Regions from separate parts of the Homo sapiens genome. Here region 1 is linked to region 2. The links come from fine-mapping of genetic effects on gene expression. Tissue or cell type: tibial nerve. Region 2 holds a variant in brackets; the other region holds the start of a gene. All regions are shown on one strand. Distances are from middle to middle.

The links. PIP is the estimated chance that this variant, and not a neighbour inherited with it, causes the effect.
Region 1: GRK3 starts here. The variant in region 2 is fine-mapped to the expression of GRK3 in tibial nerve (GTEx, PIP above 0.99). The same link has a PIP of 0.9 or more in aorta, skeletal muscle and spinal cord.

The regions. Positions count from the first base shown.
Region 1 is chr22:25,560,615-25,568,793 of GRCh38, forward strand. GRK3 (G protein-coupled receptor kinase 3) reads left to right here and starts at 4,061. Exons shown (of 21, transcript NM_005160.4): 1 at 4,061-4,539. The coding sequence starts at 4,427. It overlaps GRK3-AS1 (GRK3 antisense RNA 1), which reads right to left and starts at 4,802. Exons shown (of 4, transcript NR_183564.1): 1 at 4,466-4,802; 2 at 3,476-3,745; 3 at 2,689-2,867; 4 at 274-884. RefSeq lists silencers at 3,987-4,086, 4,397-4,646 and enhancers at 4,758-5,273, 6,556-6,735.
Region 2 is chr22:25,466,619-25,474,797 of GRCh38, forward strand. LOC124905094 (a long non-coding RNA gene) reads left to right here and starts at 6,956. Exons shown (of 2, transcript XR_007068036.1): 1 at 6,956-8,179. RefSeq lists enhancers at 5,607-6,107, 6,108-6,608. The variant C/T (reference allele first, on the strand shown) is at 4,532.

The DNA.
Region 1 (8,179 bases), 94 kb after region 2:
ACACTGAGGCAGAGCTGAGACACAGAGAGATTAGACAACTTGTCTAAGGTCACACAGCTCAGAAGGACTGGTCTTGGGCTTCTTATCCATTTGTCTTTTGAGCCCATGCTCTGAACCACAACACTGTGGCTTTTCTTTAGAGTGAGTCCCTGACCAGCAGTCCCCATAGAGAAATGTGTTTCCACTCACATATTGAAAGGAGAGTACTTCTCTACTGAACATCGTTTCAGTGCTAATAGCTAATAGTTTAATAAAAGCAAAGCTTGGCATCATACCTTTTGGCAGATCTTTATAAAGTTGTCATACATAGAGCTGCCATTAAAGCTTGTAAAGCTTTGTGGATAAAAGCAGCATGAAAAGCAGTTCATATGATGTGTGTGACAACAAACAGAATTGTGATCCAAATTACAGGTGAAACGGGACAGTGGCCCCTGGGAGGCTAGAAATACCTGCAGAGGCTTACGGAGTGAGATGTTTGTAAATAAAGCCATTCAAACATCAATTGTGTGTGGTTTTCTTGAGAAGCAACTGTATTTAAGGGACTGCTTATACAAAATCAAGTTCTTCTTAGCAAGGATTGCTTTAAATATTCTGACTTGAATGAAGGCCAGTCATGTTCTGCCATTTTCAAAAATCTTCTAACTGGAGTCTTAGAGTTGATTTTCTTTTCATTTGTGATTAATTTTCCAGAATAACATTCCCAGCTCCCACCCCACCCAGCGTTTATAGTCCAGAGATTCTGAGAGTAGGAAGTCTTAGTAAAGCCCAGAATCTAAAACAAATAAGACCAGTCAGTTCTCTAGTTAGCTTTTTTCCTTTCAAGTTGTTAGCAATATAAACTCTGGAAAGCCTAAACTTTAATGCACCCATCTCAGCAACATCTCCTGTAACGATGGAAAGGCATAGAAAAGAAGAAAAGGGAACATTATTAATCTTGTGGGAACGCTGGAGTTTTGTCTATTATCACAAGCAGCGTGAGCCCCAAGTCATTTAAATCCTCTGGGGGTGGGAGACATAATTATTTGCAAGGGAGCATTATTAGCTAAGTACAAATGGGTTGCTATTTGTTTTTTCTGTTCTTTGTGATGATTACAGGCTGGGGATGGTGTTTAGTAACAGGATCCAGCAGGTCAGTTATGACAACTTCATCATCACTGTCATTAACCCCTTTTGTTTGCAGTGAACACAAAAAGCTGTTCAGTATCAAGAGAGTCAAGAAAAAGGGAAAGAAGAGGGGGTGGAGAAAGTGAGACAACCAAAGAGACAGCCAGGGAACAGAAATTCATACACTATGAACACCAGAAAAAAATACCCCTGGGTAATTGAGTCAGCTGACTCAAATGGTGTAGGGGCCTCAGTTAGAGGACCAAATTTTGGACTCCTTGGTCTTTCTGCCAAAAGAGTAATTGCTCATGTTTATAGATGCAAATGTTTTTGCCATTTTGGTTCCTAGAAATGCCCTAGGGAGATGTTATTTTTGGTAAGGGGTCTTCCTGCTTCAAGTGTAATGACTGTGAACAACTAGTTTCAGTATCTTCTCTAGCATGCCAGGGTAAAATGAAGCAAAATAAATAGAGGAAGTGCCATGACCTTTATTGAGGATCTACTGGGTGCCAGGCAAAATGCTTTTTTTTTTTTTTTTTTTTTTTTTGAGACAGGGTCTTGCTCTCTTGCCCAGGCTGGAGTGCAGCAGTGCAATCTTGGCTGACGGCAAGCTCTGCCTCCCGGGTTCCTGCCATTCTCCTGCCTCAGCCTCCCAGGTAGCTGGGACTACAGGCGCCCGCCACCACGCCCAGCTTATTTTGTTTTTGTATTTTTAGTAGAGATACAGTTTCATCGTGTTAGCCAGGATGGTCTCCATCTCCTGACCTTGTGATCCACCCACCTCAGCCTCCCAAAGTACTGGGATTACAGGTGTGAGCCACTGTGCCTGCCCAGTGCTGCGATCTCGACTCACTGCAGCTTTCGCTTCCTGGGTTCAAGCGATTCTTCTGCCTCAGCCTCCTGAGTAGCTGGGATTACAGGCGTGCACCACCATACCTGGCTAATTTTTGTATTTTTAATAGAGACATTATTTTTAATGTATTTTTCCTGTTGGCCAGGCTGGTCTTGAACTCCTGGCCTCAAGCGATACACCTGCCTCAGCCTCCCAAAGTGCTGGGATTACAGGTGTGAGCCCCACGCCCGACAAGGTGCATTTTTATGTGCTTTTTCTCCTCTGTCTTCTCAACAACCCTGGGGTAAAAGGCCTCATTTCCACTTTTCCTATGAGAACAATAAAGTAGAAAGAGGTAAAAGACTGCCTCTAAGATCACCCAGCACAGAGCAGGGATTTGATTTCAGGTGTGTCTTGTTCCAAACTTAATATACTGTGCTGCTGGGGGAAAACAAAGAGCAAAAGGTTCTTAACTGAAGTCAAAGACGACCAAGAAAATGTAGGCAGATGTCAGGTCTGATCATGTGGATGCTCAAATGATAAACAGACACATTGAGAGAAATTGTATTAATTAAATCATAAAAATATGTTCCGCTTTTTGGGGAATTTACTCCTCCTCCTGGGGTGACCCTTGACAAGACATTCTGTCTTCCTGTTTTTAAGCAAAAAAAAAAAAAAAAAGTGGGTAGAAGATGAAAGTTTGATATTTCGCTCATGCATAGCTTTGTCTCCTTAATATATTTTGTGCTTGCCTGTCATTTCAGCTTTCTGCTGGCAGACGAAGCTCCTTCAACTGCCATTCCTACTTCTGACACTCCTCTTGTCCTTTTCAGGACAACTTTATGCCTATTGTGCCTTGGGTCTTGAGAAGCATGTGGTAAAACTGGCCAGTGGTGATGGCAGGCATAGCAGGGAATCAGATTGAGGGGGGCTGTGGCGTGGGAGAGAAAACAAAAGAGGGAAACAGGCTATTTGATGACAGAATCAGGCTGCTTCTGCAATGACATTACATGAAATATCTGAAATTTGACCTTAACTGTATCTGGTGGGTCCCGTTAACCCTGTAAGTTATGGACAGAACGTTCACTCAAATTCTAGCAACGTCTAGGCTCATGGAAATACGTGACCAATTCAGGTGAATGAAAGGGATTTTAAAACATTAATTTCCAGCTTAGGTCTTCCTAAGACTGCCTGCGTGTCCCTTACCACCACTCCAGCCTGAGTGTCACATGGATCCTGAATGCGGACTTGTGTGCACACTGTAGAAAAATAAGCAACTGAAAACCCCAGGCATCGGGGTGGAGTGATGATGAAAGACACCGAGACCGAAGATCAGGAAGCTGGAAATTCCCCCCAGCTTCGGTGTTTGGGCTGTATCTCGCTTTTCCACTTCCCTAAATCACCCTCGTGGTGCGAGTGTGCTCGCAGCAGATGCTCCCTAATTGTCTCTTGTATTGACCGTAAAACCCTAACGACAGGAATACTCTCTCTCCTTCTATTTCTCAACACCATTTCAACACCCAAACTAAAACCTCTCACCTGAGTGTAAGGGAGTGGTGACCTTCTTAAGCGGAGAGCTCTTCCATCAGAGGGCTCCCTAAGGGCATCTCTGTTCCTAGCCGGGGAGCCGTCACCCCACTTTGTTCTGCTTAGCCTAAGACACGCAACTTTTTCCAGCTTTTACTCTTCGCTGAATTCTCACGGTGGGGTTGGGGGGATGTTCAGGCTCAGGAGCGAGGTTGGGGGCCCGGCCCGCTGGGCGCTGTTCACCGGTAGCCCGGACCAGAGCAGGAGTTTCATCATTACCTGCTGGGATAGGTGGGACACATGTATTTCCGGGGCCACCCCAGACCTCCCGGAGGATGCTGATTGACACTGTCCAGTTTGAGAACTACTGTGTCCAGGGAGCAGAGGCCTCCCCATAACCCCTTGGGTTGTGGACGTCTGGCCCAGGGCTTCTCTGGGTGAGCGGGGCGGGCATCAGAGCGCGTGGAACCTGGGGCGGGAGGTCGGGGCAGTGAAGGAGGAGGAGAAGGAGGAGGCGGAGACCGAGGGGGAGGGAGGGGAGGAGGAAGAGGAGGAGGAGTCCCTCGTGGCCACCCCGAGGGGAGGGCGACCGTAGAGACTTGGTCGGGAGGCGCCGGCCCAGCGAGGCCGCTGGGACTGTGCACTGAGGGGCGCTGACCGTTGGACGCGCGCTCCCCGCAGACCCTCGCTGAAGGAGCAGGGGGCGGCGCGCGTGCGCGGGGCGCCGGGCGGCGCGCGAGGGGGCGGAGCGGGGAGGCGTGCTGCGACCCCGGCCGGCTACAGCCTGCGGCGCGCGCAGAGCGCTAGTGGGGCGCGCGGCGCGCGCGCGGGGCGGGGGCGCGCGGAGGGGGGGGCTGCCCCGGGGCGGCCCCCCCAGGTCGGGGCGCGGCGGGCGGCGGCGGCGGGCGCGCGTCCCGTCCAGGTCCGGAGTAACCGCCGCCGCCGCCGCCAAAGCTCGCCAACATGGCGGACCTGGAGGCTGTGCTGGCCGATGTCAGTTACCTGATGGCCATGGAGAAGAGCAAGGCGACCCCGGCCGCCCGCGCCAGCAAGAGGATCGTCCTGCCGGAGCCCAGGTACCAGCTGCCCCGGCCGGCGCCGGCCCCAAGCCGCCGCCCCCTGCGGCCGCCAGCTACCCCCTGCTTCCTGGAGGGTCGGGCGCTGAGCCTCCGCTGCCCCGGGGCGGGTGACACAGCGGAGCGGGCGATGCGGGGCCGGCCTCGTCGTTCCAGTCTCTGAAATGGGGCATCGGAGGGCCGGTGGGGGGCACCCCGGGAGAGAGCGCTCCAAAGTGCCCGGCGCGGCGCCCTGCGCGCAGCGAGCGCCCCAGCCAGGGTCTGGTTATGACTTGGCTGGACCAGCTCCATCCCTGTCGCCCCCTCCCCCCAGCCCTGTCCTGTCCTGCCCTGTCCCATCCCCGTGGTTCTTCCTGTTGCATTGGTGTAGTCCCCGTTGGCTCCTTGCCTGTCACTGCTTTGCGCTCCATCCTGGTCGCTCCTTCTTCCCGGGCTCATTGGTCCCCCTTTCCAACTCCATCCTCTCACCTCCCTCTGGGCCGCTTACCTGGGGACTGCAGGCTTGTTGCTTATTGTCCGAGGTAGTTAAACTGCTGTTTTCAGTACTTGCTCTTCTTGAAGTCTATTAAGTCTAGTCACCTTCTTCGGCTTCTCTTCTATTTTGTCCCCGGGCAGGATTTTGACCCACTCAGTATTCTTTTTGGTGCCAAGTGTGTCACCTGAGCTGCTTTCCTCAACTTGTAGATCTACTGGTGGCACTTTATTAAAAAATTGAAACAGGAGTCACTTAAAAAGACACTTGAATGGGTGATTCCAGACAGGAATTTGTTGTTAAATTATCAAAGGAGGGCCCGATTGAATTGGCGAGGGGCTCGGTGAGGTGCATACCAAGTTGCAATTTTCTCTCAAATGATTTATTATTAAGGTACTAGTAAAATTTTTTCTAGTTCATATCATTAGCACTTCCCCAGAAAAAATAGTTTGTCTGGTTAATAGTGAGTTTTAAATAACGTATCAAGGCTTCAGTGATGGATTTTTTTTTCTCTAGCTCCTTTCCTAATTAACACCATCATGAGTTGTACAGCTAATGTGATTCCTTGATGCTAAATAGCTCTTGGAATTGATGCTCAAAAGAGGCATCTTGTTTATGGTGAATTTGAAACCATGCAATTCTGTAAAATATTGGAATCTAAACCAAAGTTATTGTCCATTTGAAATCATCAGTCCTTCAAGCGTTAGGCGCCCAAGATTGCTTAAATGTTACCTAATGCTAAGTGATCATCATCTGATTTTTTTTACAAGTCATCCATGAGCCCTATGATACAGAAAATACCAGTCCCCTTGTTATTTGTTGTGAAAAGCTAAATTGTGCAAATGAAGACATGCTTGCTAGGTATTTTGAGCTTGCTTTTCCTCCTTAGCCCATGCCTCTTGTTGGTTTTGCAGGATGTGCTACTCTTTGATAGACAATGCCAAGTAGTGAAAATGAGGGAAAAGTGCAAACCTTTCTGCAATGTCGTGAGTTTAACACCCCTATTCCAGAGTGTAGCATATCTGAAGCTAATTGAAAAAAATCAATGCTGCTTAAAATTTCCGGCAAATGGGAAACTTACTTAGAGAACAAGAACGCCTACATCAAACCTAAATTTCACCAAAAAAACTGTACATTTCTAATGTGGTAGAAAAAGGCTTAATTCCTCTTTTGTCTTGCCTTTCCTAGTGTCCCTCCACCACCCAAAGGCAGGGAGTCCTAAATATGTAGTATTTCTATATACAAAATTGATAAATCTCAACTCATGGGCAGTTTTTTTTTTGGGGGGGGCTAGTATATAATATTAATAAAGTTAGGAACTTCTGTTCAGTTTTTTTTTTCTTGGTGTTTGGAACTTAATGTGACTTCTGCTTTTTTAGTGTCCCTCTTAAGAACGTACTTATGCACTTAGGGTGTTCACTTCCTTGTATGAATGCCTTTGTTTTTCAGTGGTATTCTTTGGTAATGCTTTCTTTTAAGGCAGAGTAAGTGACAGCCAGCATTATTTCTCATGACATTTGAAAATTGAGAAATACCAACCAGAGAGTAATTTTAGGAAACAGCCCTTCAGTAATTGTTACTCTGTTGCTCTTTTTAAAATAGACTCTCGAATTGGGCCATTGGAACCTCCTCCTGAGATTCTAATTTGTTTTCTACTTATCTTAGTGGCTTTGGCTTTAGTTTTGTAATGTAGCTATTTACATAGTAACAGTCACTCCTTGTGCTGTGTTAGGATTCTGTTACATTGAGATTATCAGGTATAACATCTTGCAAAATTCTCTCTACCACTGGATGGCAGTTAGTGGCCTACCTATTTGATTTGGAGGTTGGGGGTTGGGGAATTTCTAGATCCTGTAAAAAAGTTAATTGCATGTTAAAATGCCCCAGCCTAATGACTTAAATAGCTGGTATGACTTCACACTATTGGTAAAAGGGATACGGGTCAAATGTTTTCTGATAAGTTTCTATTTCAGCTTCATTATAGAGGAAGCCATGTGATCACCAGTTTTTGGTATTCTTGAAAGAGATGTTCAGATTTGTATTTTTGGTATCTGAATGAGAAGCATACATTTTAATTTGCCTTTGGTCTATCACTAGTGATTTTTTTATTTCCAGCAAATTATTTGCAGTCACTATTCTTTGTGCTTCCTTATTTTAGTTACTTTGCCTTTCCCACAGTTTTAAACAGAAGAGCATCAGAACGAAATATCTAGCTAATTTAAATGAAACACTGGGTTTGCAGCTTCCTGCCTATTACAGGAGAGTCTCAGAAAATGGAACATTCTGCCCAGGGGAGATTTTGCTTCCCTGAGATGGCAAGAGGCAAATATTTTGTTATGTTGACACTTTATTCAGTTAACCAACCAATGAGTGCAAATCCTGGAAAAGCTGACTGTTTGTCCAAATGGTATAGCTGCTTTAGTTTACTGAAATGTTGTTGAGCTAATGTAGCTGATAATGGGGCCTACTGGGAGTAGTAAACTGTGACCCACAGCCTCCCTTGCAGGCCCAGTTAAAACAGGAGCATTTAGATGTGCAGGCCAGTTGTTTTACATCATGTTGGAAAAGAAATACTTTTATTTAAGTAAGGTCTAATTCACAAGCAAAGGCCCACAAAGGGTCATCATCTTAAGCCCTGGAGTGATTCAGACGACTTTTACTGTAGGCTGTATTACTCTGTTACTCTTTTTTTTTTAAAAAAAACAGAATGAAATTCAGATGACTTGAAATCACATATAGTTGAAGGCGGTTGAGTAATGTGAACTTCATCTTTCCCCTGGAGTCTTATTTCTATTTACTGGACATTTCAAATGTTGGATCACCTATTGCAAAGCTTGTCCTTTCAAAGTATTCATACAATATGATAGGAAGGTCTGAAACAACATTTTAAAGATTCTTTATAATTTTCTAGGAGCACTGACAGTCCTTAAAGGACATTTATGATACCGTTTATGACATTAATTCAGTACATAGTTGTAGAGCCATTTCTATGAGCCAGGCACGGGGTACTATGACAAACCCAGCCACAGCCCCTTCCTTCATGGAGCTTATAGACTAGTGTGAAATACAAAGATTTGAGCCAAGAAGGATGTTTGCTTTGAAGTGTATTTGCTTGAAGATTTTATTTAACCACAAACAAATAGCGTTTGGATGACTTTTATTACTCTA
Region 2 (8,179 bases):
AAGGTGGGACTGAGGTGCTGGGCAGGTTGACCATCACCTCCCAAGTGATGAAGCAGCTGGCTGGGGATGTGGATGGGAAGGAGCTCAGAGGCTGCCCCAAGCTCCTCCCAGCACGAAGCTGAAAACCAGACCCTTCTGCCCCTAAGAGGCTGTCGAGGGCTTCCTGTCTCCCCTTGTGAGAAAAGAGACTCAGTGAAGCAGGGCTCATATTAGTGAATCTCCAAAGGTATTCCCAGCTTCCCTGAAGCCGCGGTTCTCAGTGTGTGAACCACAAACCAGCATCACTGGCATCACCTGGGGTCTTGTTAGAAATGCAAGTTCCGATCAGGAGCCTTGGTTCAGGCCTATAATCCCAACACTTTGGGAAACTGAGGTGGGAGGATCGCTTGAGGCCGGGAATTCGAGACCAGCCAGGACAACATGGTAAGACCCCATCTCTATAAAAAATAAAAAATTAGCTGGGCATGGTGGTGCACAACTGTAGTCCTAGCTACTCAGGAGGCTGAGGTGGGAGGATCACTTGAGCCTAGGAGTTCAAGGCTGCAGTGAGCTATGATCACGCCATTGCACTCCAGCCTGGGCAAAAGAGTGAGAACGGGTCTCAATAAATAAATAAAAAGAAATGCAAGTTCTCAGTCCTACCCTAGACCTACTGAATCACAATTTGGGAGGGAGGGGTGTCCCAACTGTAAACCCAAGTTTGAGAACCATTGCTTTGCCAAGATAGGGTCTTGCTATGTTGTCCAGGCTGATCTTGAACTCCTGGGCTCAAGTGATCCTCCTGTCTCAGCCTCCCAAAGTGCTGGGATTATGGGTGTGAGCCATTGCACTTGGCTACCATTGCCTTTGGGTTTTGTATTTCTTTAAACTGTTCGCCTTTCTGCATCTTTCATGAAAATAGGTGGGTGATATGTTCCTTTTCCAAGACCAGTTTATAGTTAATGCTGTTTCTTCATAAAGTTGTTATTCTTTTTTTCACTAAAGAAGGCAACTTTGAGTGGATTGGGCTTAAATTTTCTTTCTCTCCATTAATCCAGGAATTAGGAAACATCAACCAGGTGGCTCACGCTGCCATTTCCTGAGATAGCAGTTTCTGTCAAAAAGATTGGTCCACATATTGGCCAAATCCTCCTTTTCTTCCAGGCATACTTTATATTCATCATTATTATATATTCAGGAGGCAAACTATATTCTTCTTTTTAGAGATAGGGTCTCACTCTTGCCCAGGTTGGAGAGCAGTGGTGCCATCACAGCTCACTGAGCCCTGATCTCCTGAGCTCAGGTGATCCTCCTGGCTCAGCCTCCCATGTAGCTGGGACTACAGGTGTGCACCATCATGCCCGGATAATTTTTTATTTTTATTTTTTGTAGAGGTGGGGTCTCGCTGTGTTGCCCAGACTAGTCTCAAACTCCTGGGCTCAGCTCAAGCAATCTTCCCGTCTCGGTCTCCCAAAGCACTGGGATTATAGGTATGAGCCACGGCCCCCAGCCTTCAATTTTTCTTTAATGTTGGTTTCCCTGTTAGAATGAAAGCTCAGTGAAGCACATCTTGTTCACAATTGCATTACCACCACCGCGTACCATGACAGGCTCACAGGAGGCATTTATTAAGTGATTGCTGGCTGATGTCCTCACGCTTCCACCTATGACCACCTGTGGCTTATTCCCATTTTCTAGGGGAGCCCCTGAGGCTCAGAAAGGGGGAGATGATTTGCTCAAGGCCATGCTGGTGGAAAATGAAAAAGCTGGGTTTGAACCCAGGGCTCTATCCCACCCATGGTGGTCAACCTCTCTGGCTTTTCTTGCACCACGGCACTCCAAAACCTCCTCCACCCATGCTGGAGGCCTCTCTCCTGGCTGCCCATGGTCACTGCACAGCCCTGTGCACAGAGCCTGTCTCTGGTGCTGGGCTGGAGGGAGTTGAAGTTTTTGAAGCTTCCAGTACTGGAAATGTTGGTGGTGAGCAGGGCACCCTGACCCCGGCTTTAAAAATAGGAAGCCTGAAATAGCTCTTTCTGGGCCTCCCCTTTGCTGTGGCCTTTGAAGCCCCGAGTGTGCAGGGCTGAGAGTCCCTGCGTCCTGTGGCTGCCCTGGACAGGCTCTGCGAGGAATCCAGGCTGGAAGCCAGGCCCAGGTGGGAGCCACAGTCCACCACAATAGTGGCTTCCTAAAACCAAATCTTTGCTCCCCATCTCGAGCAGGGGAGTTGATTGGTGATGGCCGCGGGCATCTGGGAGCCTTGGCAGGGCAGCCCTGAAGGAGATCCCAAAAGAAGGGTGTATGAGTTCTTCATGCAGTTCTCCTGAACTTCCATCACCCATCTGAGCTAATGAATTTCTGTTAAATTCACACACTTCTCACCAATCCCCTGATCCAGGCCCGCATCCTCTCTTGTTCACACAACCCCAGCAGCACTTCTCACAGGTCTGTCTGCACTCCCTCTGTCCCCCTACAAATCCCATGCAGAAGTCAGAGGGATCTCAAAATGCAAATCTGATCATGAGACCCTCCTGCTTAAACCTGCCATGGCTCCCCTTCACCCTCTGGATACAAATCCTAATTACTAACTCACAAGACCTGTGTGGACCAGCCCTTGCTTTGTCTCTTTAGCTTCCTACCATGTATATAAACTTTTTTTTCTGTCCTGTGTACCCTTGATGAGTCCTCCAGCCACAGGACTCTGGCATATGCTGTTTTCTTTTCCTGAAACATATTTTCCCCCAGTTTGCCTAATTATTCCTATTATTATTATTATTATTATTATTATTATTATTAGAGACGGAATCTTGCTCTGTCATCCAGGCTGGAGTGAAGTGGCATGATCTTGGCTCACTGCAACCTCCACCTCCCAGGTTCAAGTGATTCTCTTGTCTCAACCTCCCAAGTAGCTGGGATTACAGGTGCACACCACCATGCCCGGCTAATTTTGTTTTAGTAGAGGCAGGGTTTCACCATGTTGGCCAGGCTGGTCTCTAACTCCTGACAGATCAAGTGATCTGCCTGCCTCGGCCTCCCAAACTGCTGGGATTACAGGCGTGAGCCACCACACCTGACGTAATTATCCCCCTTATGCAGGCTTCGAATCTCGGCCCAGCGTCCTCCCTGGCTTCTATGGCCAGGCCAATCTTCTGATGTGCTATTTTCTGCTTTGCTCACCTCTCTTTGGAAGCCCTAATCACACATGTTGCTCTATATGTATTTATTTAGTTCTTTGATTTCATTTCCATCTCTTTTCCTAGGCTCTATGAGGGCAAGGGCCACGCCTGATTTTGCATTCAATATATCCACAGAGCACAGTATATAGTTGAGGCTTGATAGGTATTTATTGAATGAATGAAAGATCAAATGAATGAATGAGTAGTCAAACCCAGAGACTAGGACTTGACCAACAGGAAAGACTCCTTAGAATTAGTCACTTCCAAGCACGAAGCCATGGAGACACCTGTCATTGTAATGAAAATCAAGCACTCGGATAAAAAGCTTGTCTTGTTCTCTCAACATGTGCCGATTTCTTCATCTGAAAACAACTCTCATTGTTCAGGCACAAATGCTTCCCTCTCCTCGAGTTAGTGACCACCCCCATTCCTCCCTTCCAGAGCACAGACTCCAGAATCTGTTACAGTAACTCTTCAGAACTGCGTGTTTTAACCAACCTTGTCTCAACATTCTCATCTGGAAACAGGGTGCATGTGGCTTGCTTGGCAGGAGATGTGGCCTACAAAGTGATGAATCCATAGCCTGGTGCCCAGCTGCTGCATAAAAACATAATTTCTCCATTTTTAAACTTGTAATGCTTCCTTCTACCTTGGGTACTACCAGAACACTCCAAGCATCTCAGTCTAGAGAGTGTAAAGGAAAGTATCCAATAAATGCTTTCATTCTAGGCAGGGCTACTCATTCTCAACTTCACCGCTTTTTTTTTTTTTTTTTTTTTGCGACAGGGTCTCACATCACCCAGGCTGGGGTACAGTGGCACCATCAGGGTTCACTGCAGCCTCAACCTCCCTGGGCTCAGGTGATCCTCCTGCCTCAGCCTCCTGAGTCTCTGAGACCACAGATGCACCGCCACACCTCGCTAACTTTTTTATTTTTTGTAGAGATGGTGTTTCTCCATGTTGCCCAGGCTCATCTCGAATTCCTGAGCTCAAGCGATCTGCCCTCCTCGGCTTCGCAATCAACTTTACTCCTCTTGATGTGTGGTGGGGGCTGCCCTGTGCACTGCAGGATATTAACTGCACCCCCCGGCCTCTACCAGCCAGTTGACCAGTAGCAACCCCCAACACTTGATGACCAAAAATGTATACAAACATTGCCAAGTGTCTCCTGGGAGCAAAATCACCCCAGGTTGAAAACTGTAGGGAATTACAGATATTCATACTAGGGATAAGGACATTTCCAAAGAGGATAGTGGATGGGGTCACTAATGGGATTTCCAGCAGGATTGCAGACAGGGAGGTGAAAATTTAGGACAAATCATGCAAAGTAGGTGTTTGCCTCCACCTTCTACATGAGACAGACTCAGATAAACGGT[C/T]AGGGATGAAGGGGATGAAGTCTCCCATTTTATAGATGGGGAAGTAGAGGTCCACAGGGAAGAACTTTGTTATCTGGCAAGCAGTGAGACCTGGGTGCCTAAAACACACCTGTACAAATGCATATGCATGTAGTATGTGCATATGTATTAGATAAATATTTGACATGTATTATATGTAGCAACTCTATTAGAAATGGAACTCTGTTAGAAACGTAGAACTCTTGAGGCCAAGACTTCGAGACCAGCCAGGCCAATGTGGTAAAACCCTGGCTCTACAAAAAATACAAAAATTAGCTGGGCATGGTGGTGTGCACCTGTAGTCCCAGCTACATGGGAGGCTGAGGCACAAGAATCTCTTGAACCTGGGAGGCAGAGGTTACTGTGAGCCGAGATCACACCTCTGCACTCCAGCCTGGGTGACAGAGCAAGATCCTGTGTCAAAAAAAAAAAAAAAAAAAAGGATATGTGGTCACAAATAGGAAAGGAATTTTTTTTTTTAGATTTTTTTTTCTGTGTACCCATATGTGAGCACCCATACACTCACATACACAAATGCACACACAGATACAGGTGAATCCTAACCTCCTTGCTTCCTTTTGTTAGTTCAGGGAGGAGAAAGCGGGGGGAATTTGGGGTGCATTTACTACCTGCAATCTTTTGGCTTTGGGAACTCAGGAGGAGGAGGAGGCAGGACAGAAAGAGCAGATGGAACAGGTACCCTTTTGGTTAGCCAGAGGGGACATTTGTGAACTAAGTGGGAAGAAAAGTGTCATTTTGTCCTTTTGTCTTATGAAGCTATTTTGGTGGCATTCATTTGGTTTTGAATGAAAGAAGCTGAATTTTACCACTGATTGTACATGTGAGTTGTTAGCAACAACCACCACAATAAGTCTGGGAACTGCGGGAAAGTAGGATGGGGCCATGGGAAATGGCCCGCCCTTCCTTCATCCAGAGGTGGCTGATGCCAATCTCCTGGCAAGGCCTGTCAGGCTTCTCTTAGGATGCACTGTGCATGGTGGTGAGGACTCCGGGCATCAGACCGACAAGGCTGGCAGGGGGTAAGGGCCTTTTCCAGAGCAAGGGGTCACACATGCAAAATTATCAAGGTGAGAAAAACTACTGGACGAGAGGGAATGGAGGTGGCTCTGCATGCAACTGTGGCTTCTACAGGGTGTGGGAACAAGAATGGTGGCAGGTGAGGCTGGCAAGGCAGCAGGGCCCAGGCTATGGAGGTAAATGTTGACCCTGGAAAGGAGTGTGGGCTTGCTTCTGAGGGCACTGGGGAGCCATGGGAGAATTCTAAGGAAGAGAGTCACCTGGCACAATTGGCCCTGGGGAACATTCCTTCTGTCTAGTGTGAGGAGTTGGGGAAAGAGGGAAAAGGCTGGAAGCAGTTCCCTTTGGTTGAGTGACAGAGGCCAACCACCTGCGCTATCCAGGTGGGGGCATGCCGGGGACGGGGCAGGATTTCTCTGGTGCACCCATTCCTTGTAAGGGGGACCTGTGATCACAGCAGTCTTGGTGTGCCATGTGGTCCCATCTTTTGCACCTTTCCTTTCTTTTGACACAGAGGCATGCTCTGTCACCCAGGCCGGAGTGCAGTGGTGCCATTTCAGCTCACTGCAGCCTCTTCCTCCTGGATTCAAGCAATTCTCGTGCCTCAGCCTCCTGAGTAGCTGGCTTTACAGGTGTGTGCCTGTAAATTTTTTGTATTTTTAGTAGAGAAGGGGTTTCACCATGTTAGTAATGGCTGGTCTCGAACTCCTGGCATCAAGCAGTCTGCCTGCCTCAGCCTCCCAGAGTGCTAGGATCATAGGTGTGAGCCATAGGGCCCAGCTTGTACTTTTCAAAGCACATTTGTCCATTTCTTGTTTCAGACATTCTTTTGATTAGAAACAAAATGTTACATTACAGTGGAAGCCTGCTGGGTACTTCCCTGACACCATTCCCTTTTCTCCTCCTACTTTTTTTGTATCTTTTTGTATCTTTTTTTTACTTTAACTACATGTGCCTAACCACAAACAATATATAGTATTGTTTCCACACTTTCCGTAAATGTTAAACTCTGTGATTCATTTAGCAAATTGCATTTTTCCCTTTAACATTATGTTTCCAAGGCCAGGCCAAGTGGCTCACGCCTGTAATTCCAGCACTATGGGAGGCTGAGGTGGGCGGATCACTTGAGGTCAGGAGTTCGAGACCAGCCTGGCCAACCTGGTGAAACCCTGTCTCTACTAAAAATACAAAAATTAGCTGGGCGTGGTGGTGGGCGCCTGTAATCCCAGCTACTCAGGAGGCTGAGGCAGGAGAATCCCTTGAACCCAGGAGGTGGAGGTTGCAGTGAGCCGAGATCATGCCACTGCACTCCAGCCCGCGCAACAGAGTGAGACTCTGTCTCAAAAACAAAAACAAAAACATTATGTTTCCAAGACTTATTTACAGTTGACTCTTGAACAATGAGGGAGGGAGGGGCACTGACTCCTTCATGCAGTCAAAAATCCACCTGTAACTTTTGACTCGCCCAAAACTTAACTTCCATTGAACAGAAGACTTGCCAACGCCGTAAACAGTGGAACAACACATATTTTGTATGTTGTAGGTATTCTATATTGTATTCTTGCAATAAAGTAAGCTAGAGAAAAGAAAAAATTATTAAGAAAATCAGAAGGAGGAGAATATATATTTACTATTCATTAAGTGGAAGTGGATCATCATCAAGGTCTTCCTTCTGGTCATCTTTATATTGAGTAAGCAGAGGAGGAAGAAAAGAGGAGGCTTTGGTGTTACTGTCTCAGGAGTGGCAGAGATGGAAGAAAATCCAGGAATAAGTGGACCCACACAGTTCAAACCCATATTTGAAGGGTCAACTGTATATTGTCACATATAGTAGATTTAGATCATTCATCTTAGCTGGTGTGCACAGTTTCACTGCATATGTATAATGCAAGTTATTAATCCAGTCTCTCTTTGTTGTTGTTGTTGTTGTTTTGATACGGAGTCTCATTGTGTTGCCCAGGCTATAGTGGTGTGATCTCAGCTCACTGCAACCTCCGCCCCCTGGGTTCAAGTGATTCTCTTGCCTCAGCCTCCTGAGTAGCTGGGATTACAGGTGCCCACCACCACACCCAGCTAATTTTTGTATTTTTAGTAGAGACAGGTTTCACCATCTTGGCCAGGCTGTCCTTGAACTCCTGACCTCGTGATCCACCCGCCTCCCAGTCCCGTTTTGATGGACACTTGCGTTGCTTCCAGTGGCTGCTGCTGTACACCTTGCTGCCGTGATTAGACCATGTGCATCCGGAGCCCTTTCCTTTCTTTTGGTGGCCACCTCTCCTTGAGGGGCCTTGTGACCGTGCCGAGAGCAAGAACTCTGCAACTGGGCTGACTGGGTTCAGATTCCAAATCTGTAATTTACGGGCTGAGCAACTGAGCAAGTTGCTTAAGGACGCTGTTTTTTCATCCAGAAAAATGGAGATAATAGCAGTACTTCCTTTAGAGGTTGTTGTGAAGATTAACCTATTAGTGTCTGTGAAGCGCTTAGTACTATGAGGTGTTTAACATAATTATTATGCAGCTAAAACTTGAACATGGGGATGTGCTTACTTATTTGTGGGAGCTACAAATTAAAACAATTGAATTTATGGAGAC